7 linked regions of the Homo sapiens genome follow. The protein of the gene in region 1 purifies or fractionates together with the protein of each later gene. This does not show direct contact. Each region holds a gene or a part of one and is shown on either strand. Other genes may lie near its edges.

The links.
Region 2: the proteins of FBXO9 (region 1) and ATP6V1A purify together in Homo sapiens (affinity purification with western blotting; one study listed by BioGRID). This does not show direct contact.
Region 3: the proteins of FBXO9 (region 1) and CUL1 purify together in Homo sapiens (affinity purification with mass spectrometry; 4 studies listed by BioGRID and IntAct, with this or other methods). This does not show direct contact.
Region 4: the proteins of FBXO9 (region 1) and EEF2 purify together in Homo sapiens (affinity purification with mass spectrometry; 2 studies listed by BioGRID and IntAct, with this or other methods). This does not show direct contact.
Region 5: the proteins of FBXO9 (region 1) and RICTOR purify together in Homo sapiens (co-immunoprecipitation; one study listed by IntAct). This does not show direct contact.
Region 6: the proteins of FBXO9 (region 1) and RPTOR purify together in Homo sapiens (co-immunoprecipitation; one study listed by IntAct). This does not show direct contact.
Region 7: the proteins of FBXO9 (region 1) and YAP1 purify together in Homo sapiens (affinity purification with western blotting; one study listed by BioGRID). This does not show direct contact.

What each region holds. Positions count from the first base shown.
Region 1 is NC_000006.12:53,071,303-53,075,920, reverse strand, and holds part of FBXO9 (F-box only protein 9), read right to left. Parts: intron 2,441-4,618; coding exon 2,282-2,440; intron 1-2,281.
Region 2 is NC_000003.12:113,805,410-113,809,788, reverse strand, and holds part of ATP6V1A (V-type proton ATPase catalytic subunit A), read right to left. Parts: coding exon 4,264-4,379; intron 455-4,263; coding exon 362-454; 3' UTR 1-361. UniProt on the Homo sapiens protein: Catalytic subunit of the V1 complex of vacuolar(H+)-ATPase (V-ATPase), a multisubunit enzyme composed of a peripheral complex (V1) that hydrolyzes ATP and a membrane integral complex (V0) that translocates protons.
Region 3 is NC_000007.14:148,795,922-148,800,539, reverse strand, and holds part of CUL1 (cullin-1), read right to left. Parts: intron 2,729-4,618; coding exon 2,681-2,728; intron 2,604-2,680; coding exon 2,521-2,603; intron 1,969-2,520; coding exon 1,863-1,968; intron 1,266-1,862; coding exon 1,152-1,265; intron 39-1,151; coding exon 1-38. UniProt on the Homo sapiens protein: Core component of multiple cullin-RING-based SCF (SKP1-CUL1-F-box protein) E3 ubiquitin-protein ligase complexes, which mediate the ubiquitination of proteins involved in cell cycle progression, signal transduction and transcription.
Region 4 is NC_000019.10:3,978,451-3,982,499, forward strand, and holds part of EEF2 (elongation factor 2), read right to left. Parts: intron 3,975-4,049; coding exon 3,796-3,974; intron 3,603-3,795; coding exon 3,497-3,602; intron 3,003-3,496; coding exon 2,889-3,002; intron 2,530-2,888; coding exon 2,391-2,529; intron 2,260-2,390; coding exon 2,064-2,259; intron 1,617-2,063; coding exon 1,358-1,616; intron 987-1,357; coding exon 879-986; intron 1-878. UniProt on the Homo sapiens protein: Catalyzes the GTP-dependent ribosomal translocation step during translation elongation.
Region 5 is NC_000005.10:38,952,066-38,956,683, forward strand, and holds part of RICTOR (rapamycin-insensitive companion of mTOR), read right to left. Parts: intron 3,640-4,618; coding exon 3,530-3,639; intron 2,797-3,529; coding exon 2,709-2,796; intron 1,489-2,708; coding exon 1,396-1,488; intron 1,027-1,395; coding exon 920-1,026; intron 361-919; coding exon 131-360; intron 1-130. UniProt on the Homo sapiens protein: Component of the mechanistic target of rapamycin complex 2 (mTORC2), which transduces signals from growth factors to pathways involved in proliferation, cytoskeletal organization, lipogenesis and anabolic output.
Region 6 is NC_000017.11:80,963,524-80,967,657, forward strand, and holds the end of RPTOR (regulatory-associated protein of mTOR), read left to right. Parts: intron 1-738; coding exon 739-807; 3' UTR 808-2,845; downstream 2,846-4,134. UniProt on the Homo sapiens protein: Component of the mechanistic target of rapamycin complex 1 (mTORC1), an evolutionarily conserved central nutrient sensor that stimulates anabolic reactions and macromolecule biosynthesis to promote cellular biomass generation and growth.
Region 7 is NC_000011.10:102,218,024-102,222,641, reverse strand, and holds part of YAP1 (transcriptional coactivator YAP1), read right to left. Parts: intron 1-4,618. UniProt on the Homo sapiens protein: Transcriptional regulator with dual roles as a coactivator and corepressor. Critical downstream regulatory target in the Hippo signaling pathway, crucial for organ size control and tumor suppression by restricting proliferation and promoting apoptosis.

The sequences.
Region 1 (4,618 bases):
AATACAAAAATTAGCCGGTTGTGGTGGCACACGTCTACAGTCTCAGCTACTCTGGAGGCTGAGGCAGGAGAATCAGTTGAACCTGGGAGGCAGAGCTTGCTGTGAGCTGAGATCGTGCCACAGCACTCCAGCCTGGGGTGACACAGTGACACTCCATCTCAAAAAAAAAAAAAAAAAAAAAAATAATTATATATATATATGTAATCCAATTAGAAAAGACATCAACAGATATTTCAGAGAGAGAATATATATTAATAGATGAAAAATAAGCACATGAAAAGATGTTCAACATCACAAGCCATTAGAGAAATGCAAATTAAAATGACAATGAGATACCACTACATACCTATCAGAATGGCTATTAATAAAATTAAAGGCCAGGTGCAGTGGCTCACTCCTGTAATCCCAGCACTTTGGGAGGCTGAAGCAGGTAGACTGCTTGAGGTCAGGAGTTCGAGACAAGCCTGACCAACATGGTGAAACCCCAGGCTCCCAAAGTGCTGGGATTACAGAAGTGAGCCACCGCACCCAGCTAGATTGCTAATATTTTTAATATTGTGTTTTGGAAGTTCTTTTTGCATTCTAGATACAAAATACAAATTTGTAAAAATACAAAAATTAGCCCAGCGTTACTGACGGGGCCTGTAATCCCAGCTATTTGGGAGGCCAAGGCACGAGAATCGCTTGAACCCGGGAGGCAGAGGTTGCAGTGAGCTGGAATCACACCACTGCACTCCAGCCTGGGCGACAAAGTGAGACTCTGTCTTAAAATAAATAAATAAATTAATTAAATTAAATTAAAAAGTAGCAACACTAAATGCTGATGAGGATGAACTGGATCACTCATACATTGCTGGTGGGAACTTAATATAAGATACTCTAGAAAACACTTTGGCAGTTTCTTTTAAAATCAAACATGTACTTACTATAGAACTTAGCAATTGTACTCTTGGGGTTTCATCCCAGAGAAGTGAAAATTATGTTCATGAGAAAACCTACACACATATTTCCATAGCTCCATTCATAACAGCCAAATATTGGAAACAACTCAAATGTCCTTCAACCAATAAATGGTTAAACTGGGGTACATCCATACCATGCAATACTATTCTGCAATAAAAAGGAACAAACTACTGATACATAGTAACTTGGACTGATCTTGAGGGAATTATACTTAGTGAAAAAAGCCAATCTCAAAAGGTTACATACTGGATGATTCCACTTATACAACATTCTTGGAATATCAAAATTACAAAATGGAGAACAGACTAGTGGTTGCCAGTGGTTACGAATGGCTAGGGAAAGGGAGTATATAACTATAAAACAGTTCTGTATCTTGATTGTGGTGGTGGTTACATGAAGCTACCTTGTAATAAAACTGCAAACAACTATTTATACACATACACACAGACAAGTGCTTGTAAACTCAGGAAATCCAAGTAAACTGTGGATTGTTCCAATGTCTATTTCCTCGTTTTTGATATTGTACTATAGTTATGCAAGTTGTTACCATCGGAGGAGGTTAAAGGGCACACAGGACTTCCCTATACCTGTGGACCTGTAATTATTTCAAAATAAAAATTAAGAGGAGATAGAAGGTAAGTCATCATGGTAATGCCAATTATTTGATGACTAATTATAAACACAAACTTGGATCTGATGGTAAAAAGATGGCAGCCTCTATGGAAGAAGAATAAGAAATGAAATGGTATGCTGTGCCTACTCTGTGTGAGTAAGTACCAGAAGAGATATGAATGTTAGACAGCATTCAAAATATTTTCAGTGTGAAAATATTTCAAAATTTTCCAGAATAAGGAAATGATTAATGCATTATTGTAAGCTGATCAATTCAAAATATAACAAAATACTGCATGAAATTAAGACCTCTGGAAAGACATTAACATGTGAGCAATCTTTTTGGTTCTATTAATAAATTTAGAAAATTCTGTTTTTTCTTTTTGGTTCTGTTAATAAATTCAGAGACACCAATCTTTTAGGAACCACATGAATCCCAGAGGTCTATAAATTAACAAAAGACAGCTCAATGAAGACAGTGTACCCACAGAGAAAAAAGCCATGCAGGAGTAGTGGTACCATCCAAAGTACCTAGAAGAAATTGTGAGAAATATATAAACTAGTATACTAGTCAAAATTTTTATTTTACAAGATATGTGTTTATGTCCCGAAAGTCTGGTTATAATGCCTACTTACTGTGTCAGTGAAAATTTCCATGTGCCAAAAAAAAAAAAATGTAATTTGTTACAATATCTATAATACTTAACTTTTCTTCTTTTGCCTGTTCTTGTTTTCCTTTGGTATCTGCCGATGTTTTCTGGAGAGAGCCTCTTGCTGCTCTGCAAGGTCGATTTTCTAAATTGCTAGAGCTTACACCTGGAGCAAGTTCAAACATCCACTGAGCTCGGAACATCTGGAGTTGTGCCTATGGGGAGAACAGCATTTTAGGACTCATCAAGGAAGGGTAGCTCAACTCTGGAACAATGTATCAATATGTCCAACATCTATCTACTTCCACGTATATACTTATTACTCTAAGTCCAGAAATCACTGTCTTCTGAATTATTAAATATCCATTAAATACATCTTTTAAAATAATTTTCTGCTCAAAACTTAAAGAATCAAGAAAATTAGCATAAAATACATGTCAGTACACCAAAAGTCAAATTATATTGGAAAACCAAATTTTAATTAGAATTGAAAATATAAGCCATCACTTACAGACTGAAGTTATAAGCTTCCAATAATTTTTTAATGACTATATCATCTAGTAGACATTAAGAATGCTGCCAAAAATTCTGTAGGTAAGCCCAAAATCTATTAACATTCTGTATTTCAAAAAGAAAATGTTTTTTCAAATATTTGTTATTTCAAAAATGTAAAGGCCAGGCACAGAGGCTCATGCCTATAATCCCAGCACTTTGGGAGGCCGAGGCAGACGGATCACCTGAGGTCAGGAGTTCGAGAACAGCCCGGCCAACATGGTGAAACCCTGTCTCTACTAAAAATACAAACAAATTAGCCAGGTGTGGTGGCGGGCACCTGTAATCCCAGCTACTTGGGAGGCTGAGCCATGAGAATTGCTTGAACTCGGGTGGCAGAGGTTGGCAGTCAGCAGAGATCGTGCTACTGCACTCCAGCCTGGGCAATGGAGCGAGACTCCATCTCAAAAAAAAAAAAAATTAAAAGCACATAAAAAGTGAACCCTATAAGGTAGACTCTGGTGTGTTGCCCAGATTCCCTTTCAGAAATAAAGAACTTGTTACCCAAACTGCTGAGAGTTCTATCTGAAAACACTTGAGTTGTCAGCCCTTTTGGGTATTGCCTCAGCAAAATCACACTGTCCTCTCAATCCCCACCCAATGACTGATCAACGGCTAATAAAGTCTTGGCTCTTTGCAACTCAGGTCATCTCTGAAAGGGTATTTCATCTTCAGAACTCCCTCGAGGATGGCTAAGCAGTCCATTAAGACTGCATTGCAGCTGGTCTTCTCCCTGCCCATTTGTTTCCCTCTCTCCCTTCCATAGGTGTTGATCCCAAGAATACTCCTTAATAAACTTCCTGCACAGCAATCTTCACCTAGTCTGCTTCCTGGGGAACCCAAACTGGGTTACACGTTCTGCCCAAAGGCAGCCATTGCTAACAGGGATGCATATGTTATTCCTGGCTTCCTTTTTTTTTTTTAAAAAAAGACGTATCTAGAATGTTTTAAATTAATTTTTCTCTATATTCTGTACACTGCTTTGTTGCTACGCTTTTAACCTGTTACACATAGATCTCTGACCTGCAGAATCTTTAGCAGCATTCAATGTCTACTAGATGAGCTGTTCCAAATAATTATTATTAACCTTACAAGTGCAGTGAGACACACTTAACTAGTTACAGCAACTTTTTTTCTCTTTTAATGTATAAAGATTTACTTCATCCTTTTAAATGGCTGTAGTGTTTTCACTGTATGGATGCATCATTACTTAATAACAGGTAATGAATATTTAAGTTGTATGATGTTTTTCCAGATAAACAATGCTATACTAAACATCTTTATAGTTGCATATTTACTTTCCCCACTATTTCCTTAAAATTAATTTCCTGGAAGTAGAATTGCTGTATCAAGGGAATGCATGTTTTTCATTTTGATCCATATCACCAGTCTGCCCTCCAGAAAGCTGTACCAATTTACATTTTCATGTACACTGCATGAGTGTTCTCACAGCTTGGACAGCGATGCACATTATTCACCAATCTGATTAAATTATTAATGAGGCTAATTATCTCTTCAAATATTTAATGGCCATTTGTATTATTTTGCCATTAACAGTCCACTCATATCTTTTTATCCTCTGTTCTTCCAAATATATGAGTGCTCTATGTAATGAGATGAATCCTCTGCCCATATATAATAAACAGTTTTTCCAGCTGGCTATTTCTCTTAACTTTATTTATGATGCCTTTTCTTATACACAGGTTTTAAACTTTTAGGTGGTCAAACCCATCAATCTTTTTAAGATTATGGGTTTTGAGTCATGCGTAAGCCTTAGTTTGAATACTTTAAACCCATGTTAAACTACAAGCAACCATTATTGATATTTCTTTTCACAAAGA
Region 2 (4,379 bases), on another chromosome or scaffold:
GCAAAGAGAGTACATGCAGTAGTCCTGTTTACAATTTAATAGAGATGAGGAAAGGGTACACCTAGGACAAAGAGGGTCATCACCCTACATACAAGTTTACAGTAGTGTAACCAGAATGTATATTTACTATATTCACCACTTCAGATAAAGGAAGAGGGAGGCCCTTCACAACACTAGAACAAAGGAATGTTTGTTTTATATAAGACCTACCAAAAAAACAGGGAAACAAATAACACACATAGGCACTAGTCTCAAAGCTGCACAATAAAGAAGCAAAGGGTTTGAGATGAGAAATTCAGGAAAATATACACATAGGAGCTTGCTGAGGAAAAGGAAATCACAGTTGTAATCTTCAAGGCTTCTAATCTTCAAGGCTACGGAATGCATTCTGCATGTCTTCAAGAAGTTGTGCATAGTCGCTTTTGATCTTTGCCTCACCATCTTTCAGTGGATCCTGAAAGAAGACATTACAAATTCAACTCGCATTTGGAAAATAATTTTCATTACGTATGTTAAGTTACTTTTTTTTTTTTGGAGGCAGAGTCTTGCTCTGTCACCCAGGCTGGAGTGCAGTGGCACGATCTTGGCTCACTGCAACCTCCACCTCCTGGCTTCAAGTGATTCTCCTGCCTCAGCCTCCCAAGTAGTTGGGATTACAGGCGCCCACCATCACGCCCAGCTAATTTTTTTTTTCATATTTTTAGTAGAGACAGGTTTCACCATGTTGGCCAGGCTGGTCTTGAACTCCTGATCTCAAGTGATCCACTTGCCTCGGCCTCCCAAAGTGCTGGGATTACAGGCGTGAGCCACTGCACCTGGCCCAGGTTACTCGTATTTTATATATTTTGAGTACTAGGTTTAGTGAGGGACACTGGTAAACCACAGGCAGGAGGTAAAACTATACTCATTTTCCCTTTTTCTTAAGGATACAAATCCAACCAAACAGAAAGAAAACAAAATTTTAATTTTGCATTTTGCCTGATAACCACATTCAGTGACCAAAGCCTTTATCCTCAACAATGTGCACAATAGTGGGAAATTATGCCGCTTCATATATTAGATGAACATGACTTAATGCATGATAATTAGGAATTAATTTAATCAAAACAGAATTTGCTCAACATCTGGTATTATCACACTGGGATGGAAAAGTAAAATTTAGGCAACTTACTGAGTAATATGTATAAAAGATAATTTAGCTAGGCTTGGTGGCTCACGCCTGTAATCCCAGCACTTTGGGGGGCCGAGGCAGGCGAGTCACAAGGTCGGGAGATTGAGACCATCCTGGCCAACATGGTGAAACCCTGTCTCTACTAAAAATACAAAAAAATTAGCTGGGCATGGTGGCGTGCACCTGTAGTCCCAGCTACTTGGGAGGCTGAGGCAGGAGACTCGCTTGAACCCAGGAGGCGGAGGTTGCAGTGAGCTGAGATCGCGTCACTGCACTCCAGCCTAGTGACAGAGTGACACTCTGTCTCAGAAAAAAAAAAAAAAAAAAAAAGAGACAGACTTTAAAATGTTCCAGGTCTCTAACCCAATCATTCCACTTCTGGGACTCCATACTAAGAAAATGCACAAAACCAACTACACACAACTACATGGTTGTCCACACCAATAACTGGAAATTTTCTTTTCTTTTCTTTGTTTTTTTTTTTTTTCAGACAGAGTTTTGCTCTTGTTGTCCAGGCTGGAGTGCAATGGTGTGATCTCAGCTCACCGCAACCTCCACCTCCCGGGCTTAAGTGATTCTCCTGCCTCAGCCTCCTGAGTAGCTGGGATTACAGGCATGCACCATCACGCCCAGCTAATTCTGTATTTTTAGTAGAGACGGGGTTTCTCCATGTTGGTCAGGCTGGTCTAGAACTGACCTCAGGTGATCCACCCGCCTCGGCCTGCCAAAGTGCTGGGATTACAGACGTGAGCCAATGCGCCCGGCCAACAACTGGAAATTTTCTAAGTGTCTAAGAATAGAAAAATATTACTCTCCAGCCACAAAACAATGCTACAGAAGAGTAATGACATTAAAAAATACCTGTGATGTTAATTTGACACAATAAGCATGTAAATAGAAATCATCATTACTACAGGTATATTTCTTCTTCATCCTCTTTCTATGAATATATAGTTTTTTAAGACAATATTTGGATCAAGTTACATATGGAAGTTTTTTCACTCTGTGCCATAAGCATTTCTCCATGTCTTTGAATATTTTTGACAAAAATGGTAATGCCTTCATAATATCTATCTTATGGACACACCATAATGTACTGTTGGCTCTGTTCATTCTTGGGTGACATTTAAGAAATTTGGTTTAGCGTAGTGGCTCATGTCTGTAATCCCAGCGCTTTGGGAGGCTGAGGCAGGCAGATCACCTGAGGTCAGGAGTTCAAGACCAGCCTGGCCAACATAGAGAAACCCCCGTCTCTACTAAAAATACAAAAATTAGCTGGGTGTGGTGAATGCACCTGTAATCCCAGCTACTTGGGAGGCTGAGGCAGGAAGAACTGCTTGAACCTGGGAGGGGGAGGTTGCAGTGGGCCAGGATCGTGCCACTGTACTCCAGCCTGGACAACAGAGCAAGACTCCATCTCAAAAAAAAAAAAAGAAAAAAAAAGAAAAAGAATTTAATAAACGACCGTGTATATCCGTATCAAAATTCTGATTACTTCCTTTGTTTATTTATCTCAAGGTGAAATGACAAGACTAAAAAGGTGTAAATGTTTTTAAACTCTCAATGTAGTGCTTACCTATTTGTACAGGTTTACTTTCAATCTATAGTGTGAACACACACACAAAATATATATATAATTTAAAAATTTTTATATTACATATACACTCAGAGAATCATTCTCAGTAGGTGGTTAGTAAATATGCCTGGATGTCATGACAGAAATAAATACAATTCAACTGATCAAATATTTTAAAAACAATCTTATACATTTGAGTTCCTACTAATAATTTCATTTAATTATCTATTTTTATCTTGTGTACTTCCAAAAGAACAAGAGGCCACTTAAAAGTTAAAAAATGGCTGGATGCGGTGGCTCACGCCTGTAATCCCAGCACTTCGGGAGGCCGAGGCGGGTAGATCACATGAGGTCAGGAGTTCAAGACCAGCCTGGACAACATGGTGAAACCCCGTCTCTACTAAAAATACAAAAAATTAGCTGGGCGTGGTGGCAGGCACCTGTAATCCCAGCTACTTGGGAGGCTGAGGCAGGAGAATCGCTTGAACCCAGGAGGTGGAGGTTGCAGTGAGCCGAGATTGTGCCACTGTACTCCACCCTGGATGACAGAGCAAGACTGTCTCAAAAAAAAAAAAAGTTAAAAAATGACCTGCAGTACATGATATTTAAAAGAAGTAAACAGAGAAGATGTCATTTCAGAAGAACACATGTGCTAGAGGTTAATAGGCACTTGGAGTAAGGCAACTGTTGCTCAGCTATGAAGTAAGCTCTAATTTGCCTGGCAACTAAGACAAAAGGGAATACACATCAGCATTTATTTTAGACGTGACATACTAATTTTTTTTGTTTTTTGAGACTGGGTCTCACTGTGTTGCCCAGGCTGGAGAGTAGTGGTGGGATCATGGCACACTGCAGCAGCCTTGACCTCAGCCTCCCAGATAGCTGAGACTACAGGTGTGTGCCCCACACCTGGCTAATCTTTTGTATTTTTTGTAGAGACGGGATTTCGACATGTTGCCCAGGCTGGTCTTGAACTCCTGGGCTCAAGTCATCCTCCTGCCTGAGCCTTTGAAAGTGCTGGGATTACAGGCATGAGAACCACTATGCCTGGCTGATATACTAATTTTTATCATTAGAATTCCTATTTGAACATAACTTTGAGGTCTCTACTGATTTTACAAAACCTGAACATGTGTGAAAATAACTGCAAGTTTTACAGCCCAGGTTTGGGACTCAAAATAGCTAGAAAAATTAAAAAGAAGCATTGCACTTTGTGAGGCCAAGGCGGGCAGATCACGAGGTGAAGAGATCGAGACCATCCTGGCCAACATGGTGAAACCCCATCTCTACTAAAAAAATCCAAAAATTAGCTGGGCGTGCTGGCACGCACCTGTCGTCCCAGCTATTCAGGAGGCTGATGCAGGAGAATCGTTTGAACCCAGGAGGCAGAGGTTGCAGTGAGACAAGATCATGCCACTGCACTCCAGCCTCGCAACAGAGTGAGACTCTGTCTAAAAAAAAAAGAAAAAAAGAAGCATTTCCAAATAAAAAAAGTTACAGCAGAAACAAAATATACCTTGAATTTCATGGAGGAAAGTTTATAGAGGATGTCTCCCATGTGCTCACGAATAATGGACCATGTGATTTTATTGTCACTCTGGGCAGTGGTTTCAACAGCTCTACGAGCCATAT
Region 3 (4,618 bases), on another chromosome or scaffold:
TCCAAATATTCTTTCTCAATTAGAATGTCAATGCATTTCTGGGTGTTATTTTTAAAAAGGAAGAGGTAGTGAAAGAGAAGAAAAACACAAATTATCATCAGAACAGAGAGAGGCTGCCCCCACCACAAATCTCCCCTGATTCGGAGCTCAGTGGGGAGCAGTGTCCCCGCCCCAGATCTGTTAGCATAGAGTTTTACTTCCTGGCAGCTAAGCCTTCATGCACGGAGCTCCCTGACACTTGCTGAGGGTGACTCCGAGTCCCTCCTGCACCCGCCCTAGGAACTGGAGTCAGGTGCTTCGGGAGCCCCGTGGGCCAGTCTCCCTTTCTACCACCAAAATCTGCCTGCCTCTGCGGCAGGACTCAGTCTCACAAGAAGAGGCCATGAACAGGGAACAGGGGACTGTGGGGAACTCCCTGAACAGCCATGAACGAACTGGCACCTGTGCCAAATGTAACCCAGGAGGGACACTGGGCCTCCTGCCTGTTGGGGAAGTCACCTGTCAATGCCACCCCTGAGTCTCTCCACTGGCTGTGACTTACCCAAGTGGTTTAGGAAAAGGAAAGTCCTGCTTAGTTACCATTTTAAACAAACCCAATCAGAAATAAGCAAAATGTCAATTATCAGTAGGCTACATAAAGGAAGGTGTGTTCCCATAACACAACACCCATAAAAGCAACAAAAACGACCCAGTGCTTCTCGATACCGCAATGCGACGAACCTCCCGAAGATACTGCTGAGGAAATTCTTACCAGGCACGGGAGTGTGTGCTCTAGAATCTGTTTATGTATCACGCAAAAGCAGGCAAAACTGTTTTATGGTGTCAGAAGACACGACAGTGATTTTCTATGGGACACAGGTGCTGGCTGGGGTGGGTGGGCTTCCGGGATGCCGGGCATGTTTCAATTCTTACCTGGGTGCTGATCACACAGTGTATTGACTGTGAAAGTCATCAAGCTGGCACTTCATCATCTGTGCACTTTGTATGTGTGTTTCAACAGTTAAACTGAAGCCGACTTTCTTTTATAGAAATCTACATACAAAGAAGCCAGCTCCCTCCTCCTTCATGCTACAGCAATCAATCCACTTTTTGCTACATCTTTTATCTTCTAAATTAAGAAAGGAATGTGACTGCTATGTAAAGTCCTGTACCTTGATCACAGGGACTCGAGGTTTGAACCTGGAGGACAGCTGAGTGAGGACCTCGCCAAGTAACTGCTGGTGTTTCAGAACCTTCCTCATCTTCATGATTCTCACGATGGCCGCCTATGCAACAAGATAAGGAAAAAGAAGTGCATTTAGAGCTGTAACAACGTTGTATTGATAGTTAAGGACAAGCTGCACAGAGGCTGCCGACGCCTATGCACAGGATCACAATTTCCTAACAGGCAACAAACATCCTGCAGGTGAGACGGGAGAGGGAACCAATTCTACCTGCCTATGTTTCAACTCTAACGTGGCAAACATTACAATGTTTGGGTCTTTTGAGCAATTTTACCTCAATAATTTAACTCAACCATAAAGCATTAAAAAAAAGGAGACAAAATTAAATCTTCAAGGCCACGGAAGCTGCCCATCCTCCCCACTGAAGAACTCTCCTTCCCCCTCATTTCAGCCAAACCTGCCACAATGTTTGCTTTCCAACATTTAGAGCAAGAGGACTGCCCTGTTTTGCCTGGTGACATAAAGGACTAATTCAGATAACAAGGCCCTGGCTCTCGGCCTTGCCACCTTCTGCCATCACAGACCCATTCATCTGGCAATCACTCCTTTGTCACCCCCGCCTACCCCCCACGGCCCGTCCTTGCGAGCCATCCCTGCGTGAGGGACAGCACACCTGGCACAGGCATACAGATAAGTCACCTGAATCAGTAGTTTGCGGTCTTCCTCGATGTTTTTGTGTGTGGTTTCTTGTTCCTGCTTCTGTTCGGTTTTCATTGGCACATTGATGTTAACCCTTAATTTCTTACTATCAAGAAAAATGAGGAAACCGATCACTATTATATTAAAAGGTAGGCAGTGAAGGCTGCTTTCTATTTTTCAACCTTTAAGAAGTGCCCTGCTTCCCTAGACAGAGGGGAGAATGTTGATTTCTGTGAGCTCTCCGTGAAAATGTCCTCTACCCAGCACTGGGTAGAGTCCGATCATGGCCTAGTTTCCTACTCGGCCATTAACAGGGACATCCACATTACAGAAAATCCAGGTCCCTAATCTGCTCTCCCAAATTTTGTCAAGTGAGATAAAATCAAGCCACTTGGACACAAAGGTCCAAACTTTCTTGGTGAGCCATTTAAGGAGACTTATTTGCCAAAATAATAAAAATCCCAGAAGCTCAGAATTGGAGAAACATCAGGCTCGCTGAATGGAATCAAAGGCCTACCTCACACTCCCAGCCTAGTGCCTGTCGCTTCACACTGAGTCCCCGGTCTCCCTTGGTTTGTAACAATACTGAGATCCGTGCTAGGGCTCCCGGGGGACGTGTCTATGGTCAAGGGCCATCTACTTATTAGATTTTTCTTACTTTTTATAACCAAGATATAATTTTATTAAGGTATCTGGCTTCAATTCCACCTCATCAACATTTGCATTTTCATCTTCCAAGACCTGTAAGAAAACAATTGTTACTCTACAATCTCAGGAAAAGGCTTCTTCTAGTGTAAGATAAAAGGGCGCAAACCTACCAATAGCTTCGACTTTAATAAAATCTGTAAAACTTGCGCCAAAATGTCCTGCAATTAAAGAGAAAAAGAGGAAGTTAAAGGGAAAATGCATTTTTCTTTGCAATAACCACCACAGGCAACCTCACAGTCCATTTTCCATTAAAAAAAAAAAAAAAAATCACCCAAAAGAAGAGTATGCTGGAAGGAAAAAAAAGTTGGTACTTCTTAGAAGTTCACTAAATTTACTGCTTCCTTCCACCCTGACTTCTAGAAGTGAAATCAACCCCTTTCTGGCCTTGATCACACAATAATAGAAATGAACAATTCTGTTATACTTAAATCAGGTTGAGTAACCCTTATCTGAAATGCCTGGGACTAGAAGTGTTTGGATTTCGGAATACTGCACTGGATTTACAGATTCAGCAGCCCTGATTGGAAAATCCGAAATTTCAACTGCGCCATGAGCATTTTTTTTTTTTTTTTTTGAGCATCATGTTGGTGCTCAAAAATGTTTGGATTGTGGAGCATTCTGGAATCTGGATTTTTGGATTAGGGATGTTGAACCTGTATTGGAAACCATGCACAATGAAATCTTCAGGAACTCTTCACTTCTTAAGTGCCTGACAGCTCATCTTGGACACTGATCATCACAAAAGAAATATTAAAGAGCTGCCCAGCAAGACTGAAAATAATGTCCTGCTCATGAGAACAGTGGGGCTCAGCGGCAGGCGACCTTGTCAACTTGCCTTTGATGCACTCAAGCACGTTGTGTGGCCTCTCATCTGTGAATGGTGGGTGTGGTAAACGCTTCCCAGCCCTCCTTCAGCCTCACAGCTTTATGATCCCATGAAATCCAAGGGACCAGCCTGAGGGCACTCACAGAGTCACACGGACTCTTACAACCCACGGGCAGTGGAGTCCTGTCGTCATAATGGGTACCCATTCTGGTCTGAGGATACGTGGTGAAAGCTGTCAAAGCGAGAGGCCTCTCTCTAGTCTAGTAACTGACCCAGAACTGCCAGCAGCCATTCGAATACTGCCCACTGCATCTAGAGCAGGGTGCGGGGGTGCCCACTTCCTGAGCCAGGTCTGATTGGACAGCATCTACTGTGGGCAGAAAGGAGAGAGCAGCGGCAGCCTCCTGAGGGAGTTCTAACACTGAGAACCACTCAGGAGACTGGCCTAAAATCCTGATCAGAAGCAGCCAAGCAAAGACCTGACAGTCCACACCTGTCAGCCCTGTCCTCAGGACCCGTCTGCACAGCCCTCCCCACAGTCTAGGGGGCAACCAGGCCTCCAACCTACAAAGGCACAAACTCATTTTGTTATTAGAATCTGAAGATATATTTAGGAGTAATTCGAAGAATGATTACAAAATAGTCATTCAAAATGACTTTCCTAACTCAGTCCATAAGGCCAGGATTAGCCAGACACGAAAACCAAACGAACATCTTGAGAAAACAATGGAGCAATATCCCTTATGAATATAAATGCAAAACTCGAGAAAATACCGGCAAGCTAAACCCAACAACATAGAAAAAGGATTATATACCATGACCAAGTGGGACTCACCCTAAGAACACCAGGGTGGTTCAACATCAGTGCAATACACCATATTAACAGACAAAAAAGCAGTTATTTTGACAGAGTAGAAAAAGCATTTTGACAAAATACAACACTCTTGCATGATACAAAATTCAATAAACTAAGAATAAAAGGGAACCTCTTTAGTCTGATAAAGGACATCTAGTAAAAGCTCACAGCTAACACCATCACTCTTTAACATCACAGTTAAACAGTAAAAGACTGGAAGCTTTCCCAATAAGGGCAGTAACAAGACAAGGATGCTTGTTCTTGCCACAAATTCTAGCCAGAAGAATCAGGCAAAAACAAAGACAAACAAAAAAGAAATAAAAGGCAGCCAAATAAGAAAAGGAAGAAGCAAAACTGCCTGTATTT
Region 4 (4,049 bases), on another chromosome or scaffold:
CCCAACCCCTCCAGAGCATTTGTGTTGTTTGTGGACAGAAGACAGCAGGATGTAACTCAAAAACTGCCCCGGAGGCCGGGCGTGGTGGCTCACGCCTGTAATCCCAGCACTTTGGGAGGCCGAGGCGGGTGGATCACGAGGTCAGGAGATCCAGACCATCCTGGCTAACACGGTGAAACCCCGTCTCTACTAAAAATGCAAAAAATTAGCCGGGCATGATGGCAGGCGCCTGAAGTCCCAGCTACAGGAGGCTGAGGCAGGAGAATGGCGTGAACCTGGGAAGCAGAGCTTGCAGTGAGCCAAGATCACGCCATTGCACTCCAGCCTAAGCAACAGAGCAAGACTCTTGTCTCAAAAAAAAAAAAAAAAAAAAAAAAAAAATAGCCCTGGGCCAGGCATGGTGGCTCACACCTGTAATCCCAGCACTTTGGGAGGCCGAGGCAGGGGGATCACGAGGTCAGGAGATCGAGACCATCTTGACTTACTAACACAGTGAAACCCCGCCTCTACTAAAAATACAAAAAAAAATTAGCCGGGCGTGGTAGCACGCGCCTGTAGTCCCAGTTACTCAGGAAGCTGAGTGAGGCAAGAGAATCGCTTGAACCCGGGAGGTGGAGGTTCTAGCGAGCCAAGATCACGCCACTGCACTCCAGCCTGGATGACACAGCGAGACTATCTCAAAAAAAACAACAACAACAACAAAAACAGCCCCACATGCCTGTGGAAGACTGCAAAGAAGAAACTTGAGGAACTTAAGAAGCTGAGACCAAGACCGAGATCAAGTCTAGGCGTCTGCAGAGCCTAGCTCAGCTCAGCTTTAAAGCAGAGGGCAGGTGTCCGGGGTGGGGCGTGGGGAAGGCTGGTCACTGGCGCCTCACCTTGATGGGGATGCAGGCGTGGTCCTCCTCCAGGTCCTTCAGGCAGATCTCCAGGTGCAGCTCGCCGGCGCCCGCGATGATATGCTCTCCCGACTCCTCGATGATGCACTGAAAGGGATGCGGGTCAGCACCAAAGGGGTAGGCGGCTCGGAACAGGCGGGACCAGGCTCCCAGCTTCCCTTTAGCTAGGGACCCCGCCAGAACAAGATTTCAGGGAAGGTGCTGGGAAACTGGGACCAGCACAAACTCCTGAAGAAATGTTAAGTCCCACAAGCTACAGTGAACACGCGCAGAGCAGCCTAGGAGAGGGTGGTGGCTGCCTGGGCAGGAGTCTCCATTTACAGCCACAGCCAAGAACCCCTCCTTTCATGACCAGTCACCCCAATCCACCAACCACAGCAACCCACACAGCCACAACTCAGGACACAAGCCGTCCCCCCTCAGGGTGTCTGCTCCCAGCAGGTGCACTCCGTGCCCACCTGCACCATGGGGTCGGACTTGGCCAGCCGCTTCAGCCCCTCCACCAGCTTGGGCAGGTCAGCCGGGTTCTTGGCCTCCACGGCCACTCTGACAACAGGGCTGACGCTGAACTTCATCACCCGCATGTTGTGCGCGTGCTCGAAGGTGGTGATGGTGCCCGTCTTCACCAGGAACTGGTCCACGCCCACGAGGCCCACAATGTTCCCACAAGGCACATCCTCGATGGGCTCCACGTAGCGGCCCATCATCAAGATTGTTCTGGAAGAAGCAGAAGGCGGCAGCAGGCCGCAGGGATGGTTGTGCTGGACCCTGGAGGGCCAGGGCAGGTCCCTCCCGGAGTTGGTGGCCCTCCTGCCAGGTCCCAGGGCAGACTGGTGGCTTCCACAAGGCCCTGACTGCTGCGTCGGGGCTGTCAGGAAACATCCTCTTCAGAATCACTGCCCTCCTCCCTGGGTATGGGTCGACGGCCGCCACCCACCTGTGCCCAGGGACACAGATGAGCAGGGGTGTGCTGTGCCCTGGGGCTTGGAGCTTCTCCAGAAATGCCCTCACTGGGCTAAGAACAAAAGTTGTGGCTGGCACAAGTATCACCCTATATTCCTTCTATGCTCCTTACTTCTAGCTCCCGACTGAGGAGCCCAAGACTTGGAGCAGGGCAGGGCCCGCAACAGTGCCAAGGGGCCTGCACATCACCCAGCTGCTCACCTCTGGATTGGCTTCAGGTAGAGGTCCTCCTTCTTCCCAGGGGTATAGTTGGGCCCCATGATCCTGACCTTCAGGCCAGTGGAGACCAGCCCCGAGAAGACTCGTCCAAAGGCGTAGAACCGACCTTTGTCGGAGGTTGGCACCATTTTGGAAATATACATCATAAGAGGGCCTTTGGGGTCACAGCTTTTAATGCCTGAGGGACAGAGAAAACCCGCAAGCTTTATTCCAGTGCAGCTCAGCCTTCTGGAACCCTGCAACCCACAACCTTGGGCAACAGGAAGTCATCCGGCTGCATCTCAGGGCCCGGCCACCGGGACCACGTACCCATGGCAGCCTCGTCGTCCGGGGGCCCCTCGTACAGGAGCTCGCAGCGGTACTTCTGGGCCGTCACAGGGGAGGGCAGGTGGATGGTGATCATCTGCAACAAGGCGTCTCCGGCAGGCAGCCAGCGGCGCATCACAGCCTGCGGGGGCAGAGAGCGGTGCATGAGACACCTGGGGAGCCCAGGATGGCCCCACCCCGTACACGCTTCCTCTCTTGAAGCCAAGGAAGCCAAAGTCAGGACTAACGTTCTCCAAAGCACAGTCCCTTCTGGAAGGCGGCAAAGGCCATGCACACTCCTGCCAAGGCCCTCACCCACACCTGTCCCGGATGGGGCTGGCTGCTGGGATGTGTCTCCAGCAGCACCCAGAGTCTAAAGCGAAAGGGGCAGCAGCTGTCCCTGCCCAGCTGAGGACTTCAGCCCCCAGGCCTGGGCTGTCAGAGCATCCGGAAACAGCAGCCTGTGTTCCCTCCACCCCGAGGGCTGGGCCCAGGCCGCACCTTCAGCAGGGGTTTGCCTTCTTTGTCCTTGTCCTCGCTGTCCAGTTTGATGTCCAGTTTCTCTATCAGTTTTGCTGTCTCCTCTTTCTTGAAATTCATGATCGCATCAAACACCTACATTCCCCACCAAGAAACAAGAAAGCCCATTTGGGAACAGCAGGAGGAAGCCTGGCACTGCTTCCTGCTTGGAAGACTCAGGTCAGCGCAGGGGGACGCAGCACGGGAGCAGGAGCAGGCCTGGCCTGCCTACCACGGGCCCAGCCAGCTGAGCGGATCGGGAGCTGGAGGAAACCTCGTGGTGGAGCAGAGGAAAAAGCCCACTCTGACTCAGACAAGGACCCAAGTTCTGACTTACAAGCACTGAACCGCCAAAGCCACAAGTTATTCAACCCCCTCAATGCAGGAGAGGTCCCAAGGCTCTGGCTATGCAGTCCAGATCTTAAGAGAGGAGCCCTGACTCCACCTCAGTTAGGAGCTGTGCCTCCTCCCATCTCGCATCTGCCCCACAAGGAGACGGGCCCAGTCAGCCGACAGGCTACCGGCCGGAGCCCACAGGGCCGAGGGCCAATAGTCGCATCGGCGGGGTGCCTGGCGCAGCCCTCACTCACCTTGAAGATGGGGTCCAGGATCAGCTGGCAGAAGGTGCGTGGCAGCTTCTTCCCTTCGGGGCTGGTGGCTGACTTGCTGAACTTGCCGTTGGCTGGGTCAAAGTACCTGGCAAGGAGAGGCCAAGCCAAATCAAGTTAGGGTCTCCAGGGGATGACTTGGGGAGGGTGGTCGCCAAGGGGACATGCTTGGGCAAGACCTGGTGGGCTTGAGCCACGCTGTGAATAGCACACCACGCCCCTACGTCGCTGCCACTACCCCCAGGTGTCAGGAATCCCCCACCATATCCCGCGGGGCTCACCTGTCACCCCACAGCTTCTTCATCATGTCCTCTACTTTCTTGGCCCGCTCGGCAGGCCCCAACTGGCCCTCCCCCTTGGCGGCGAACTTGGCCACATACATCTCGGCAAACTGCTTCAGGGTGAAGGCCCACCCGTGGAGGCCAGACCCAAAGCCCACGGTACCGAGGACAGGATCGATCTGGAAGTGTGAGAAACGAGAAGCAGCCGTGAGGGCCCCTGCGCAGAGCCTGAAGCTACGGGCTGGGCGCCTTGG
Region 5 (4,618 bases), on another chromosome or scaffold:
AGGCTATTATTGCCAAATAATTATCTTAGACAAAAGCAAATTACAAATGTAACAAATACATTTAAATTCTAAAATTCAAATATAAATGTTAACATTGGCTAACTTTATATGAACCTGTCAGGATACTCACTCGATGGCACAGATTCACTTTCACTATTATGTCTAGAGCTGGTTGACTCCGAGTTCAAACTTAGAGTGCTTGGGATAGATGAAAGTTCATTACAGAGTTGTTCCACATCATCTGGAACCACTGGCCACAGATGTTTGCGACTATGCCTCACAGCATCCCAGTTGTGACATTTTAGAATATCACAGCCTTGTTTGGTTTTAGCTATGAGCCCAAGTACATATACACAGGTCCTGTATATAAAAGATGCAGTAAAAACAGTTATAATTCCAAGCTGAGATTTCTTAAAGCCACCACAGATTAATTTGCTATACATACTTTGAACTTTCTCTAAAACCCACCAAAATGGTTGCGTTTGTGGAAAAAAAAAAACTTATTAAGACTAGTCAGGAATAAATTAGCAGCAATAAAAAACAAGCAAACCTTCCCAATAAAAATAGTAATTACAACAAAATAAAAAGAACACAATGCAACATGAGCAAAAAAGGTATATTAGCTTTTCTAGTATAAATCTGGAACAGCTGGGTTACAGGAATACTGGAGTATCTGTACAACACTATGCCTTACCTGTTACCTACAAGGTAAACTTCAATATAATAAAAATCAAATTATAGTAGTAAACAAGGAGTTCGTTTAGATGTTTAACTTAATACAGTTAATAATCTTGTATCATTAGAACTTTCAGTGGATTAACAGTTATGCATTGCACTTAATCATAAAATACTTTCCCCTAACATCCATTTGTGAATAACAACGTCTACATTAGAAAGATTTCTGAGTTAAATGACCTACCCTCTGATGGAAAGAACTTCACACTGTTTTGCAAGTTTTAGTATATCTGGAATCACGTTTTCTTCCTGTAGCAAATTGAGACCCCAATTTGATGAGCCGATATTTCCCTGAAAGAAAAGAAATCACTTACATCAAATATAAGAGTCACTCTTTCAAAAGATTTGGAAAGCTACCAAGAAACAAATTTAACCTCATCTCTGAGAGAGAAAAAATGTAAAAGCCTCCTCAAGTACAAAACATTAGGCATGAATTAATTCTAGTTGTCTTAGCAACAAAACAAAAGTCATGAAACCAATAGTTCAACCATCTATTCTTCAACATAGAGATAATACACTTATATTGGCAGGAACAATCCAGTCTTAAATATTAATCTAATAAGTAGTTCCAAAGAAAATATTTATCTATTTAGTATAAATGAAAAAAAAACTTAAAAATCTAAAAATTGCGAAGATCTTACAGAAGTGTTTATTACAAACCAAGGCCCAAAGAGATGCTTTCAGTTTTTTAATTTCTTCCCACTTATCCAAATCTGGTGTACGAACATTACGACAGAGTTCTGTAATAATATTCTGGAGAAAGAAAAAAAAATACCATGAGTAATAATATATTTATGTATTTAATATATTATTATTGCATCATAAAACCAGTATAACGTTTGTTTTTTGTCATTTTTGCATATTTAAATTCTAAATAATTTTATGTAAAATTTCTTGAGAAGCAGCATAGGGCAGGGGTTCTGAATTCACATTCTAGAATTATCACTTATTAACTGCATGGCCTTGGGCAAGTTACTTCATCTCCTCATCCTTTGATTTCCTAATATCTAGAAGAGTGATAATAACATTTGCATCATAAGGTTTCAAGATTTAATAAATTATTGCACATACAGTGCTTACCAAAGTACTTGGCACTTAGTATTACTAAATAATCATACTTATTCTTTAAAACAGAAAGTAAATTAGTGCTTAGGTTTTATCATACTATGTAAGTAGTAACACTGAGAAAATCATTTAAATTTTTAGTGAAATTTTCAAATGTTAATATGAAAATACTTGTCCCAACAGTTTTCACAGACGTAATATAAAAACACATGAAACTATAGAGTACATTTATGCAAAACTTTGTGCTCTTGAGATGAATACTGATACAATCGGGAACTAAATTGTTAAATAACTATTGTTCTGTCACAAAAACAAATATTCCTATAACTTTATTTCTAAAATAAGAGAAACGTTACATTTATTGGAAACAGTTGCATGACATATTCACAACCATAAATGCGGTGTACATATTATAACTCAAAGAACAACTGCTTGCCTATGCTTGTTAACATTCCATGAAGTACGCGAGAATAAAATGTGCTCACAACCAGCAACTTTCAATTTATTGCTCAACAAGGATAACTTAATCTGTATTAGGTTCAGTTTAATTTCCCAATGAGTGGAAGAAAAACTCGGTTTTTCAGTACGTTTTTGGAGATCTGAATTTCTCCACTAAACTCTAAAAAAAGAACTCAGATCTTCATTGGATTGCTTACTCTACATAACAAGTTAGTTATTCAAAAAGTCATACACAAGTCAGTTAATGCATTGCAAGGCCATTAATATTTCTCAGGTTAATAAATATAGAATGCCTAAGTCAATTACAAAATAGATGAATTTAAAAGCAATTACACCACTGATATTAAAGCTTTTGAGAAGTTTTTGCAAAGGTAATATTTTAGCAATGTTAAGATTTTGTTTTTTTTTTACTATTGTAGCTACTTAAAATAAGTGAATTATGTTTTTACCTGTACTTCCAACAAATGGCAGCCTGTTTTATGGTGTACTAGTTGTCCATAAAGGTGTATAGGCAGGTAGACGTGAGGACGCTGTAATCTAGTATAATAAAGATGATTACTATATCTCTTGGCTAATTTAAATATGCTAATTAGAACAAAAGAATTTTAATAAATGTTTGATAAATAAAATTAGATACAACTCTCCAGCATAAATAAAAATATGAAAGTAACAAGGAATGAGGATTTCTCAGGTAAAATATAGGCTGGGCTTCCCTAATCCAAAATGATCCAAAATCCAAAACTTTTTGAGCACTGACATGACACTGTAAGTGGAAAATTCCACACATTAGTATTTAATGCAAACTATTTCATACAGAAAATTACTTATAACACTGCATAAAATTATGTTTAGGCTACGTGTATAAGGCGTATATGAAACAGATTAATTTCATGTTTAGACTTGGGTACCATTCCCAAGGTATCTCGTTATATATATGCAAATATTCCAAATCTGAAAAAATCTGAAATGCGAAACATTTCATCATTTTGGATAAGTGATGTTCAACCTGTAACAGTTTATCAGAGCTCAAAGTACTGGTAAGAGAATCTAGGCCTAGAAATACAGACTGGGGTGCCAGCATGGAGTATATGTGAATGCGTTATCAGTAAGGATATTCAACATGCCATGAATGCCACTGAATTTTTGAGCAATTAATGCTGCGCATTAAGATTCTTCCTATATCATGTTAGAAGCAGAATATACAAAAACTCAGAAATGTTAAAAATAATTTATGATGAACTAGTTTTAAATCTGATAACTGGGTACGCACCTTTGGTTACTCCGACGAACATAGTTATCACCATCAACAGGCTTCCGGTAAGTAGTAAGTGCTTCATTGAGTTGTTCCTCAATCAAGTCAACATATTTGGAGTTGTATTCCTAGAGGATAATATTGTTTTAATTGCACATAGTATCACAATGAGTCACTAAATTTAAAATATGTCAGATACTTAGCAAAGGGTAGACAGATCAAGGTATTATGAATGCAAATGTTCTATCATATCCATAAGCTTTTGGCTCAGGTTTCAACTAGTACTATATACTAATGACCCCCATATCTGCCATTTTCCTCACAAATCTGAGCTCCAGATCCACATTTTCAAGCCATCACGTGGTTACTGCACAGACAATGCCAGTTCAACATATTGAAAATTCATTAGCCTAATCTTGAATCACTTTTTATAAATGTGATCTCTTAATAGTGATCCATTATATATTGTCATTAAATTAGAAACCTTATGAGCCAAGTTGGACCTCTTATTTACTGTATCCAATCAGCCCACAAATTCTGTCCATCTTATTTTGAAAATACCCAGAAAATGCGTCCTCATCTAATCAACCTAACTACCAGTGAAGTTCAGGCACTCATCAATTCTTGTTTCTAAACTTGTGTCAATATTTCTAGACTTTACCTTCAATGATCAAAATTCCTCCTCTTCACTGCAACCTGTCAGATTACTAAAGCACAACTCTGATCACTCTTTAAAAGCTGTTAAGGATTCCCCACTATATATACAATTGAAATCCCTTAGGATGATATAATATGGCTTACGAGGCCTTTTACAATCTAGCTTTAATTTACCATTCCAGCCTCATCTTGCCACTCCACACTTACCTTAGTTCCAACTACATTGGAATATGACTTTCTTCATAAGTCTATAATGTTCCAATGATCTATACAGCTTTATTCTGCTCCTTCTTCCGTGGATACCCTTCTTCTAATTTATTTGCCTACTTACTCCTCAAGACCATTTCAAGTATCACATCTACGGCTCCTATTCAACATTTCTTTTGATAATCCCTAAGGCAGAATCATTAATCTCTCCTCTGTGTTCCCTTATACCTTGCATGTAACTTT
Region 6 (4,134 bases), on another chromosome or scaffold:
CCCTCACCCCGTCCCCTCTGCGGCCCTCACCCCGTCCCCTGTGCGGCCCTCACCCCGTCCCCTGTGCGGCCCTCACCCCGTCCCCTCTGCGGCCCTCACCCCGTCCCCTCTGCGTCCCTCACCCCGTCCCCTCTGCGTCCCTCACCCCGTCCCCTGTGCGGCCCTCACCCCGTCCCCTGTGCGGCCCTCACCCCGTCCCCTCTGCGGCCCTCACCCCGTCCCCTCTGCGGCCCTCACCCCGTCCCCTCTGCGGCCCTCACCCCGTCCCCTCTGCGGCCCTCACCCCGTCCGCTGTGCGGCCGAGTCCTCACCCTGTCCCCTGTGCGGCCGGGCCCCACCTGCACGGCTCTCTGGCCTTGGTTGCAGCCTCCCCACGTGGCTTCAGGCCGTTGTTTTTAGATTAGGATTCTGCCCACCTGCCGCCTTGTGTTGTGAGGCTCCAGGCATGTAGCTCTGCTGACACGTGTGACATTGGATCCCAGAGCTGCCCCGTGGGGCAGTCCTGAAAAAACCACGCAGGGCCCGGGGCAGCGCCACGCCCCTCACGGAGTGCACCATGCATGGGCCCTGCAGAGGACTGGTGGGACCGGCCCGGCATTTCCGGGCCTGAGGTGGGCGTGGGGGTTCCTGAGACCCCGGCAGGAGCTGCCTAAGGATGCGGGTTGGCCTGCGCCCCCCCGCCCCCCGCAGTGTCTGCCCGCACCTGAACCCCTGCTCACCCCTTCTCTCTCCTTGCAGCCTCACCTGGCCGTGGGAAGCAACGACTACTACATCTCCGTGTACTCGGTGGAGAAGCGTGTCAGATAGCGGCGTGACCCGGGCCCACCAGGCCACGGCCGCCTGCTGTACATAGTGAAGCTGTCACTCGCCGGGGCACGGGGCGTCGGCTGCTGCGGCCCCGCAGTGTGAACGTTGGCTGCTGCCTTAGCTGCTGATGACGGCAGGAGGGCCCTGCTACTCGCTTTTGTCTGTCTTCGCTGTCGTGTCTGGAATGTCAGGGAAGGGGAGGGCTCGGGTTGACGGTGGCTTCCCACTGAGCACCAGCATCCAGGTGCACCCCCGCGGCCACGGCGCCTCTGTCCCTCTCCTGTTCTGTGTTTCTCTGAGACGCTGAAAGGGGAAACACCTCACTTTATTTCCATGTAATCAGAGCATTAGCTGCAGAAAAACCCCCCGACAGAGCCCTGGCGGAGAGGCAGGCGCTGGGGCTCCTACGGGTCCCTGGGGCAGCTGTCCCCATCAGGCCAAGAGCGAGCGAGAGGCGCTGCCCCAGCCAGGCCCACCACCTCTCACAGTCAGTGCACGCAAGCAGGGACATTTCCTAGCCAGCTGGGGGACACTGGAAATTCGGGAAACCAAGAGAGAGGAAGAAGGAGACGCCCCTCCAACTGGCGGGTGTGAAGGAAGCCGCCCAGGGGTCCGGGCTGTCCTTGGCCGCTGGCAGCATCACTGAGCAGGAAGCGCACAGCCCACCCTCCCCGCACCTCCAGGTCTCTGGACTCCAGTTTTGGCCCCTCTCACACAGAGCTGTCAGCAGGGGCCGCTGTGGCGGTGCACAGGGGAGGCAGGTCCTTGGCGAGGTAGCCCCTGCCTTAATCCACGGGGCTCCTTTCCCTCCGAAGGGCTGCTCTTCCCCACAGGCGCGGGGACAGCAGCCCGACCTGTGGTCTCCATGCCTGTGCCCTCACACAGGTGTAGCACACGCATGTGCAGATGGCACCACGGCCGGCACCTGGGGGCACACACATGCAGGCGGCGTGGTCTCCCTGCTCTGTCCCCACACGTTCCTCACATACAGGCAAGAGGCACTGCCGGGTCCCGGACGGCTCCGGGTGACACCAGCCCCGTCTCCAGCCTTGAGCCGCCCATGCTGATGCGACCTCGGCTGACAGCTGGGCCTGTGGTGCAGACAGGAGCTGTGTGGACAGTCCCGCCCAGGAGGGGCCGCAGGGCGTGTATGAGCAGTTTTGCAAACAGAACACAACCACAATGATGGTATTTTGAAAAGTGTTCTTTCCGTGTTCGTCGGGAATCAGGATTATTGAGAGGTGAAGGAGCCAGGTGGCTTCATTCTGGCGGTGAGAGGCCCACGACCACGGGAGTGAGAGCTGGTGTGGCGAGGCCCGGCTCTCCTGCGGTGTGGCTGGTGGCCTGCCGTGGCCAAGAGCATCTTCTGGGTGGATGGAACCCTGCCTGGTCACATTTGGCCAGAGACACACCTGGCCCTCAGGGGGCTGAGCTGGAGACTGAGCTGGGGCTGGCCGGGACGTGACAAGGCAGGACAGAGGCGGCCCCTCCGCTGCTCCTTTTTGGAATGCGAGCTCCCACCAGAAGAAGGTTCCGGCACGAATCCCATCCCCACGTCTGGGCCGAGAAAGCAGCCCGGGTCCGGAAGGTGTAGAGAGTCCCGGCCTCACTCAGCTCACAGGGCGTGCCAGGCGGCAACACCAGAATCTTCCAGAAGCCCAGCTCCACCCGCACACGCAGCTTCCCATCCAGTCCTTCAACTCAATTCTTACCCAACACGCGTTTCTGTTTGTTTTGAGACAAAATCACCACCTGTCAAAAGGCAGGTGGCTCCAGAGGGGTCAAGACCCCCCCCCGCCCCCGCTCCACCCTGGAGCCCACCCCCATGGGCACCGCGTGCCGCCTGCACGTGGGCTGTCTTCACAGGTCTGATGTGAAAATTCAATCACGACGTTAACCGGCTCGAGAGAGCGCCGGCCTAGAGGCTCATTATCTATTTATTTTACCAAACGCGAATTGAGACGGACTTTGACAAAACACGAAATGGTAATGTGAAGCTAAGAGCAGAGAGTGACCAACAGTAAACAACACGCGCAGACTCCGCGGCTGGCGGCTGTGTCTTTAAGGAAACTGCCCACCCCACCTCAGGGGGGCATCGGTCAGAGCAGAGCTCTGGGGGGTGGGGGGACGTTGCCCGGGTCCCCCCTGCTGTCCCCAGGGCCACCAGCAGCTCTGCGTCCCGGGTGCTCTCCAGGCAGGCACTGTGGCCACAGGGGGCCTGGCACGTCGAGTGTGCAAAGGTCTCGGTCCTTTTCTCCCAGGCAGTGCCCCCAGCCCTGTGGCGCAGACCCCACATCAGGGAGCGTACTGTGTGGCAAGAGCCATCTTGTGACGTAGGCCAGACACGTGTCTTTCTCTTTAAAATGACGGTTATCCTCTCACGGTTAGAGGCCCCATTCAAGTCTGCATTGAAATCTGGGCCACGTCAGAGTTCCTGGGGGAGAAGCCGCTTCCCCGCTCCTCCCCACTTCTGGAGGCCCCCACTCTCCTTGGCTCGTGGCCCCTTCCTCCAGTTCAGGGCCTCTGACCCACGCCCACCGTCACCACTTCTCATGCAGGCCAGAAGTGTTTCCAGGCCTAGGGGCCGTACCCACCTCGGGCTGTGTGGGTCCTTAGCCCTAATCACATCTGCACATCCCTCTGGCCAACTCTTTTTGGGTTTGCTTTTTGTTTTGAGATGGAATCGCACGCTGTCACCCAGGCTGGAGTGCAGTGGCACGATCTTGGCTCACCTCAACCTCCACCTCCTGGGTTCAAGCGATTCTCCTGTCTCAGCCTCTCAAGTAACTGGGATTACAGGTCTGTACCACCACACCCAGCTAATTTTTATATTTTTGGTGGAGACGGGGTTTCGCCATGTTGGCCAGGCTGGTTTCGAACTTTTGACCTCAGGTGATCCACCTGCCTCAGCCTCCCAGCGTGAGCCACCACGCCTGTCCCCGTCTGGCCAATTCTTGAAAGGCTCCCGTTTCCAGATCACACTCTGCTCTGCAGGTCATGGCCTGTCCCTTGAGGTTTTTCCCAAGCAGCAAGGTCCGTGCAGGGATTGGGAGCCAGGGGGAATGTTGTGGAAGCCACAGCAGAGGCAACGGGCCTGGGCATGGTCCTGCGGGGCGAGTGGGAGGCAAGGGTCCGTGGGGATGGTCATGTCAGCCACACTGCACCACCTCAGGGGCCTGACTTCTGGAGAGCTTGGGAACAGGCTCTTGTCCCCCCGGCCCCTCTCACCTGCCGACCAGAAATTGGGTCTCGGGCACTGAGTAGCTTGCCCAAAGCCCTGCCTGTTGGGTGGTGGCAGGGACTGGGGTCCTAACCCCACCCCAAGGC
Region 7 (4,618 bases), on another chromosome or scaffold:
ATAATATTTAAAATGGGGTAAAATTTCTTCAGGGTCATCCAACAATTTCTCAGCAGGATTCTCCCTGTAAACCTGAGCAAAGGCTGTAGGTTGCTACTCTGATGGTTGCAGAAGGCCTGCCTTCAAGGGCTTCCAAACCTCCCAGGTTTCAGCCTGTATTTGCCCAGGACCTCAAAAACAGTTCATCTCACTGTGACCCATCCGTAGCACACTCATTACTACTCTGTCCTTTTTCTCTCCTTTATCTGTTCACTGTTTCTTACCCTCCTAAGAATTTTCACTGTGCCTCTCCACCTATCGTAAACATCATCTCTACTAGACCATCAGCTTTCTTTCCCTCTACTTTTTGGGTTTGATTTGAAATACATACAGTTTCTTATCACAAAGGATACTGGCCTGACTCCGTCATCCTTCCACACAGCTTTCTGAGCCAAGTCTGCTCACTGAGGCACGGCCCCACCATCTCCAGCCCTCACCTCCACAATCGCCATGGGGTCCTGAAGTATGGAAAGCTTCTCCTAGCTCTACGCTGCCACTTCTAAACTACAATTCTCCTGCATGCAAATACCACTTATTTTTCTTTAGGTTTATGCCTTCTGGATATACCATCCTTTAAACCAGAGTTTCTTAACCAGCGGACCATGACAGAATTCAGAGAGTCTCTGAACTTCAATGGGGTAAAAAAAAAAAAATTACACATTAACTTTCGCTAAATTTGTCAACATTTTCTCCAATGTAGTATGCACCATTAGTATTCACTGTACCTAACTTTTCACCAATAGAACATATAAATGTTTTCATATCACATTGTAGTTGTTGCAAATATTTTAAAATACCATTTATGATCATTGCTATTTCAATGCTACAGTAGTTACGTTATAAGATGTGCTTCTAGATTTTTTTTTTTTTTAATCTTTTTGAGACAGGGTCTCACTCTGTCACCCAATCTGGAATGCAGTGATGCAATTATAGCTCACTGCAGCCTTGACCTTCTAGGCTCAAGTGATCCTCCTGCCTCAGCCTCATGAGTAGCTGCAGCCACAGAGGCACACCACCATACCCAGCTAATTTTTTGTATTTTTGTAGAGACAGGGTTTTGCCATGTTGCCCAGCTGGTCTCAATCTCCCAGGCTCAGATGATCTACCCTCCTTGGCCGCCCAAAGTGCTGGCATTACAAGCATAGGCCACTGCACCCAGCCTTAGATCTTGTTATTTATACATTAAAAAGAAGCACGTTATATCACAAGTTTCTATTTAATATTTTCTTAACTGTATCAATGAAATTCCTTTTCTTTTCAATCCTGTACTTTAAAAAAAAACAAACACCAATGTCCTGAGAGGGAACCTAGGGACTTGGCCAAATGCCAAAATTGTTTGCCTGTCTTCCCTGCAAGGTAAACTGCTTCTTGTACTCAAATTTACTGATCTCTTCGTTACTCCATCTTATATACGGGAAAATTCTGGAGTCTGGTCAAAGCCTCTTGCCACTCCAAGTATTCTCCATGCCTCTTAACATGCTTCAGTATTAAATGGACAATTCACTTAACCTGACAGCTTCCTGAACCTTCTGGATTCCAGTGACCTTCATCTCCACTCCACTCAAACACCCATTGCACAGCCACTAAGATCCTGTTATTTGAAACCAAACCAACTCTAAAATCTTAAGTCATGTTTTGAGACGATGATCAGTGTTTCTCTTCATTCCAACTGCATTCATCACATTGGAATTATGACCTCCATGCATAAAACCCATATAATAACCCATTGTTGAAATGCCGGGATCGCCTTTACACCGAAATGATACTGACCACTTCATCACTGTATTTCAATCATTAATTCCCTCAGTCATACCCAAGAACTGGCTTAGAAACTTCTCTCCCCAAAATCTTACATGCACTTATTTTACTTTCTCACATTTTTTTCTAACCAGTTCCTGCATAGACTCATGTCCACTCTACCAGCCCTCCAACCTCAGAGACTCCAGACCCATCTCTCCTTACTAGTCTAGTCTATTGGCTGTCTTTTGGTATCTTATTTTTTTTTCTCCTTCCCTACAAGCTTAAATTCATGACTGATCATTCAAAACAGCATAAGCACCTTTTAGATTCCTGATGTACATATAATTTTATCTCAGCCCAGCAAATCCCAACCCCAAAGCAATGCCAAAGTGTATTTGTTCCATTTTCATTCTGAGATTGCTGAGAAATGCTAAGGGAAAAGAAAAAAAAGAAATCACATAACTATCCAGAATGTTATCATTACAAATTAAAGGTCTTTGGTTTTGGATGGACCCTAGTACCACTTATTGGTTTTTTTGTTTTGTTTTGTTCTTGGTCAGTTGTTTTTCACATCCTCATGGTCACTACTCCAAATATGGCATACTATCTCAAGCCCCTATTCAGGGAAGTCCATTTCTTTTCTTTTCTCTTCCTCCAAATTTTTTTGTAGAGACAAGGTCTCACTATATGTCGCCCAGGCTGGTCTTAACACCTGAGCTCAAGCGATTGGCCTCCCAAAGTGTTAGGATTACAGGCGTGAGCCACCATGCCCAGCCAGTGAAGTCCATGTCTATTTCTTTTCCATCTACATTAGAACACTGAGGCCATTGGCTGGGTGTGGTGGCTCACGCCTGTAATCCCAGCACTTTGGGAGGCTGAGGTGGGCGGATCATTTGAGGTCAGGAGTTGGAGACCAGCCTGACCAACATGGTGAAACCCCGTCTCTACTGAAAATATAAAAAAATTAGCCAGGCGTGGTGGCGTATGCCTGTAGTCCCAGCTACTCAGGAAGCTGAGGTTGCAGTGAGCTGAGATTGCGCCACTGCACTCCAGCCTAGGTGACAGAGCGAGACTCTGTCTCAAAACAAAAAACAAAAAACAAAACAAACAAAAAAAACCAGGTCATCAGGTATAATCTTTGATTTTTCTGGCCCCTCTTGCCACCTCTTCCTGCTTGCCTCAAAAGTAACTTCATTTATACTCATCATCTTTTTAACTTTTCTTGCAGTCTTATGGGGATCCCTCTTATTTCTTTTCTATCTTCTACTTTTGACTCCTCCCATGCTCATCTTACAAAGTGAGAAGTGACTTTAAAACAGTGATACTACACTCATTGTAGTCTGTCTGTGGGAGGACACATCCTCTCAATACCATGCCTTTCTTCCGTATTATTTAAGACCTGGTGAAGGCACTACCTTTTTGAAGAAACTCTCCGTGGTGATCCCATCTCGATCTTGAGATTGGATTAGACACAGACATGTCATGTCTTTAACATCCTGAACACAGCACTTATCACAAAATATCGTAATTATTTTTGCTGTACCCCCTAAGGCCAGAGTGAATGAATTACTCTGGAGCATAAAACAACTTAAAATTCCTTGAAGAATTTATTTTGCTCTTAAAATATGAGGATGTATTTAACAATAAACTTTAAAATGAATAAAATTATAGACTCCAGAAAAGGCTGATGCCTAGGGTTCTGTGACAAACATGGGAGTATTGGAGAATATTCTAAAGACTCTCATTTGCTTTTTATCAAAGAAGGTATGCTCCTGTTTGTAGCACAAAACAAATATATAACACTAAACTGTAAGTCATAACTAAAATAACTGAATTGGCTATAATTTTCATATTATTTTTACAACTTTTTATTTTAGCCTTTTAAATAAAATTCCTACTTTTTATTAGGTTAAAACTAGTATCATGTGCAGACTAGACTCTCCATGTTCTTGCTGCTTTGAATTTGGCCACTATGTTTGTTAAAAGCCGTGAAATTTTTACTTTTTACTTCATTTAACAACTGAATTTCTATGTCAGCAGACACTGCAGAACCAACTATGCAGATTTATAAAGAAAGATAACTTAGAGATGTCAGTAAGCAGGGAAATCATTCCAAGTTACCTAAGGAGATATCCGACCCCTTGAAGGGCTATGGAAACACTCTTCTCATTAAACCTATATTTGAGCCATGACTAACAGTAACTAACCTAAGGATTCACCTAAATTAGACTTGAAAGAATCAATGAAAAAAAGACACTTTACTTACTGGTGGCAGGAGTGTATTATTAATCAAATAGGGAAGAATTTGGCATGAAAACAAATATAGTTAGCCTTTCATATCCGTAAGGCAACCAAGTATGGATCGAAATATTCGAGAAGAAAAATGGAAGGCTGTGTCTGTACTTAACATATATAGACTATTTTTCTTGCCATTATTCCCAATACAGAATGACAACACAGTTATAACAGTGTAACAGCTCTTTACATAGCATTTCCATTGTATTATAAGTAATCTAGAAATGATTTAAGGTATACAGGAGGATGTGTGTAGGTTATATGCAAATAGCATGCCATTTTATATAAGGGACTTGCTGGAACCAATCCCCCAAGGGATGACTCTAATGTAACAAGGCCAATGATACAAATAACATATATGCAGATTATGGATAGCATACTAAAGGTATAAATACTCAGCTGAGTTTTGAAACTTTTAGTTACAGGTGATTAGATATTCCAAGTAAATTTTGAAAAGCTTTTTGATATATAACGGATATACAATAAATTATAAAGTGCATAAATTGATGAGTTTTGACATGTGTGTACACCTGTGAAGCTGCCA